Linked DNA regions of Homo sapiens: region 2 is linked to region 1. Evidence: fine-mapped QTL for protein levels in blood plasma. Region 1 holds a variant in brackets. A gene starts in the other region. All regions are shown on their forward strands.

What was found. PIP is the posterior inclusion probability: the model's chance that the variant is causal. The UK Biobank Pharma Proteomics Project read protein levels with antibody pairs (Olink). The fine-mapping took linkage between variants from a reference panel, not from the people measured, so its PIPs are less certain.
Region 2: GFRA2 starts here. The variant in region 1 is fine-mapped to the plasma level of the GFRA2 protein (UK Biobank, PIP above 0.99).

The regions. Positions count from the first base shown.
Region 1 is chr10:100,314,270-100,316,769 of GRCh38, forward strand. All of the region lies in intron 2 of PKD2L1 (polycystin 2 like 1, transient receptor potential cation channel), which reads right to left. Among named protein-coding and RNA genes, the nearest start is that of PKD2L1, 15 kb to the right of the region's middle. The variant G/A (reference allele first, on the strand shown) is at 1,453.
Region 2 is chr8:21,787,831-21,790,836 of GRCh38, forward strand. It overlaps GFRA2 (GDNF family receptor alpha 2), which reads right to left and starts at 1,045. Exons shown (of 9, transcript NM_001495.5): 1 at 290-1,045. The coding sequence starts at 329.

The DNA of each region.
Region 1 (2,500 bases):
AAAAAAATCTCAAGAAGCCATAGGCTTGTACCCAGAACAGGAAGACATGGAAAAGCCTGTGAGACAAAGGACCAGGGAGAAAAGAAGAGGAGTCAAAAGCTGTGGGCAGAGGTAGGCGAGAAGAAAGCAAAACAGACCAGTGCCTGGGGAGAGAGAAGAGAGAGAAGGAAGCAGGCACGGGGACAGCCAGTCCAGGACCGAGAAGTATCCAGCAAGAAGCACTGTTTCTGATCCTGGGCTTCTCTGCAGTGTGATTTATCTTTCACAAAGTGCATCCAGAGATCCTCCTTCACTGACTTTATTGCCATTAGCCATCAGCACTTTAGGGGAGCCTCCTATACTACATTTATCACAATCAGCGGACGTTCCACCTCACAGACGGCATTGCTGTTGACTTTACACATCCTTCTAGTGTAAACCAACAGAAGCTTCTTTATCTAAAATTCATGTATATTTATATATGTCTAGAAAACAATTGAAATGGGCCGGGTGCGCTGGCTAGCCTGTAATCCCAGCACTTTGGGAGGCTGAGGTGGGTGGGGATCACCCAAGGTCAGGAGTTCAAGACCAGCCTGGCCAACATGGTGAAACCCCATCTCTACTAAAAATACAAAAATTAGCCAGGCGTGTTGGTGTGAGCCTGTAGTCTCAGCTACTCCAGAGGCTAAGGCAGAAAAGAAAGAAAGAAAGAAAGAAGGAAGGAAGGAAGGAAGGAAGGAAGGAAGGAAGGAAGGAAGGAAGGAAGGGAAGGGAAGGGAAGGGAAGGGAAGGGAAGGGAAGGGAAGGGAAGGGAAGGGAAGGGAAGGGAAGGGAAGGGAAGGGAAGGGAAGGGAAGGGAAGGGAAGGGAAGAGAAAACAGTTGAAATGATTATATACCAAACTAGGAACAGTGATTACTGAGAGGGATTTTTTATTTTGTTTTATTTTATTTTACTTTAAGTTCTGGGGTACATGTGCAGAACGTGCAGGTTTGTTACATAGGTATACATGTGCCACGGTGGTTTGCTGCACCTATCAACCCGTCATCTAGGTTTTAAGCCCAGGTTTGTCACATAGGTATACATGTGCCATGGTGGTTTGCTGCACCTATCGACTCATCATCTAGGTTTTAAGACCTGCACGCATTAGATATTTGTCCTAATCCTCTCCCTCCCCTTGCCCCCTACCCCGTGACAGGCCTGGGTGTGTGTTGTTCCCCTCCCTGTGTCCATGTATTCTCGTTGTTCAACTTCCACTTATGAGTGAGAGCATGCGATGTTTGGTTTTCTGTTCCTGTGTTAGTTTGCTGAGAATGAAGAGGGATTTTCACATTCTCTATGTTATTTGACTTTTAAAAAACAAGGACTATGTATTAGGTAAAAATTTAATAAATATATTACCAGTCTGATTTTCTTTGTAGGGGAAAGGGGGTAGAATTATGTTGTAATAGAATGAGAAGAAATGCTGGTTTAC[G/A]CCTTTTTCCTCTTACTTGCCCCTTGAGACTCTGACTATGGCAAAACTCTTGCATATTCATAGCCTGAGGCCTTAGTTGGCTGGCGCTACCTCCTCCATCCCCTGCCTCCTCCAGGCTGACAGCCAGCACTATTAAAACTAACAGGCAAGCAAGCAAATGGCAATGACTTTAGGCCTCCCTGGCAATGACTTAAAAACAGTTAAAAACAGTTTTAACACTGTTAAAATAAGCAGGCAAGCAAATGGCGATGACTTTGGGCTTCCCCAGACACGAATGGTACCTGTCTCTGGGACCTTCAAGATTTCCCAGCTCTCCCTGACCACTTTGTCTCCCACTTCTTACCATGGTCCCAGTGCACCCTCCACTGTAGCGCTCATCACATTCTATGTCACTGTTTGTTTACATGTCAGCCTTCCTTACTCCTTGAAGGCAGAAGATGTGTCTCGGGTATTTCTTTTGTTTTTTTTGAGACGGAGTCTTGCTTTTGTTGCCCAGGCTGGTGTGCAATGGCACGATCTCAGCTCATTGCAAACTCTGCCTCCCAGGTTCAAGCAATTCTCCTGCCTCAGCCTCCGGAGTAGCTAGGATTACCGGCATGCGCCACCACGCCTGGCTAATTTTGTATTTTTAGTAGAGATGGGGTTTCTCCATGTTGGTCAAGCTGGTCTCGAACTCCTGACCTCAGGTGATCTGCCTGCCTCGGCCTCCCAAAATTCTGAGCCACAGGTGTGAGCCATCTTGCCCAGCCTTGTCTCAGGTATTTCAAAACCCTCAGCACTTGGCCTAGGGCCTGGCACATAGTAAGACTTCATAAATGTTTGAATGAATGAATGTGTGACTATCCAGGATCTCAAACTTAGTTTCAGCATTTTGCTAATAAGCTCTCTTTGTCTCATCTGTTCTTTTCCTCCATGCTATGAAATAATCTAATTTGACCAGCTTAGACTCAGTCTCTGAGCCAGTGGTTTACACACATTTTGTTCTCAGAACCCCTTTGCAACTTCAATATTTTGAGGACTACAAACAGTTTTCATTTATTTGGGTTAT
Region 2 (3,006 bases), not on the chromosome of region 1:
GGCGTGTGAGCGAGCGCGGGTGTGTGTGTGCGTGCACAGTGTCTGCGGGGCTGGTTCGGATGTTGAGTCTCCCTCCCGATCCCCCTGCGTCGCCAGCCAGCCGCGGCTCCGGTCCCTCGTCCGCGTCCCTGCCGCCCGGCCCCGCTCGGTTCGCCAGCACCGGGCCCGGCTAGCTCCGCGGCGCGCTCTCCCCGCCGACCTCCCGCCAGCCCCCCACCGGCGCTCCGCTCGCCCCCCGCCTCCCCGGCTTCTCGCCTCCCCCTCGAGCTCGCCGCCCGCAGGTACTCACCTAGAAAGAAGAAGAGGCAGAAGACGTTTGCCAAGATCATGTTAAATAAATCCCACCGTTTTTTTGTCTTTCTCCCTTGGGTAAAAAAAAATAATAGTAGTAACAACAACAATAATAATAGGCAAGCAGTGGTAATCAGCCCCAAATCCAATGCGGAGATCCCAGCTAGTCCACCCGATGAAGATCCCGAGTCCTGCGATTCTCGCCTCTGGCTGGAGGGGGTGGGGTGAGAGGCGGGCGATGGGCTGCTGCCTCTCGACGCCCCCCTTGCCCGCTACAATCAAATATACGCGTATCTGTGTATCGGCTTTCTAAGCCAACAGCCCAGTCCTGGGGTCAGCCCTCCCCTCCAATCGTCCGGGAAGGCGTGAGTCCCCGCGGGTCCAATTCCCCTGCGCTTCCCAGGAGGGGCCTGGGGAGGTGGGGAGAGAGGCGATTTGCGAGTGAAGGGCTGGAAGGAAGCGGCGAGGGAGGGGGTCGGAATAAAATGCAAATAGAAAAGAAATCCACAGACGGGTGTCAGCGCCCAAGAACAATCCAGTCGGAGCTTCGAGGACGAGAGACTGGAGTCGCTTCTTTCGCACCAAGACGAAGACAAGATTCAAAAAAATCTTCTCCCGCTAACCCTTGCTCGGCTCACTTTTTTCTAATGGAATTCCAGTGACCGTGTGTCTCTGCGTGCGTGTGTCTTTCTCTCTCCTCTCTCTCTCTCTCCTCTCCCTCGCTCGCTCTTTGCTCTCGCTCTCTCCAGCTCTCCCTCGCTCTCCTCTCTCCCTCCCCCTTCTCCCACTCTCCCTGCTCCTCCCTCCGCCCGCCCCCTTCTCCCTTCGCGGCTCCCTCGCCCGGGCTCTCGCGCCAGCGCCCCTCTCCTCCGCCCCGGGCTCGGCGCTCGGGCTCCCAGGCGGCTGGCGGCGCGGGGCGCGGGGCGCGGGAGCGCGGCGGAGCTACGATGCTCTGCAGCGGCGGCGGCGACAAGGCGAAGGCGGTGGCGGTGGCGGTGGCGGCGGCGGCGGCGCCGGGGATCGCGGGCCGAGAGGAGAGCCCAGCCGCCGGCTCCCTCGGCTCAATCGCCCGCCCTTCCTGGGACTGACCTGCTGCCTTGGCCGGAAACTGACTGGCTCCCCCGGCTACGGCTCGGGCTCGAACCCACTCAAGCGTCGGCACCCTCCTCCTCCTCCCCCCGCAGCTCTCCCCACCCTGGGGACCGGCTGCGCCCTCCAACCCCCACTGCCCCTGCCCCCGCCCCCTGCGCCGCTGGGTCTGGGAAGCCTGGGGAGCTGAGCTGAGGCTGGAGGGCGCGGAGTCCGTGGGGCCCGAGCCATCCGGGGGCTCGGGGGGCAGGGCGTTAGAAAAACCCCAGCCGGTGGCCCGGGTCTGAGGGGGGCTCCACCCTCCGTGGGCTAAGGCGTCCCTGCGCCCAGGAGCCGAGGCCGACAAAGCGTCTCCCCGATGGTGCCAGGGAAAGGAATTATCCCCTTCGGCGCCGGCCCCGCGCGCCCCCGAACCCAACGCATCCTGCCGGCCCCGGCCTAGCCCCGCGCGCACATACACGTGTGCTCTCCGCGCGGACCTCGGGAACTTTGCCCTCACGCCCGCGGCGCGCTTGCCTCCCGCCCGCCCCGGCCTCCACCCCTTCGAGATGCCCCTTCCCCAGCCGGTCTCCCCTCCCCCCGGCTCGGGAAGAAGCCTGCTGGGCCAGGGCGCCCTGACCACCTCCTCGGAGGCCGGCAAACCTGCCTGAACCGCCCCAGAGGAATCGGGCAGGGGCTCGCACCCCACCCCGGCAGGAGGGCCCCGAGACCGACCCGGGCCGGGGCTCCGCAGCCGGCTGGGCTCCGAGGAGCTCGTCCCGAGGCAGCTCCCGGCTCCCTAGGCTCCGGGGTTGGGGGGTTCCTCCTCCCCTAGCCGGGAAGGGGGCGATTGATCCATCTGTCGGTGGGCCGGGCTCACCGGCGTGTTTTAGTCGCAGAATTTACAATAAACGCCCAGAAGGACCTAAAAGGAAGCGTCTGGCTGGGAAAGGGCTGGAGGAGAGGTGCGGCTGCGGTCACGTTCCGGCGAGAGCGGGAGAGGCGCGGGGTCGCGGTCGCGCGAGGGCTCACACCCACGCAGCCCGGCATCCCCCGGCCCTCGCGCCACGTTCCTCGCACTCAGCTCGGCGCGCACACACGGTGTCCTGGGGTGGGGTACACGCAGCGCCTCAGAAACTTTTCGTGCTGCCCAAAACAATCTGGGCTGCACGTAACATGAATTTGATAGTACCGTTTAAGATGCATTCTTAAATAACAAGACTCTGGAATCCAGTAAATGCTAGAAATCGACTTGGACGAGAAGGGAGGGGTCACTAACAAAACCAGCAGCCTTAGCTATTGGGAAAGCTAGAGGGAGCAACTTCCATCTTGAGGATTTAGGCGGGAAGGCGGCTGCTCCCGGCCTTGGAAGCACAGAGAGCGAGTCTCCTGTGAACGCCTCTTTCCTGTGGTCCGTCCTGGGGCATCGACCTTCCTCCCTCCATCTTCTCCCCCAGCCATCCAGTTGTGCCTGCTTCGAGCCTAGGCCCTAGCTGGGTAGTGACGAGTCTGGGACAGAGGGCTTAGGGATTGGAGTTGGGGAAAGCCCCCTTCAGGCCTGCCCTCCCTGTCATTCCTCCAAGCCTCTCATGTTCTAGGAAGTGACTTCGCATCTGACAAGGTCTCTTGGCTTTTTTTCCAAAAATT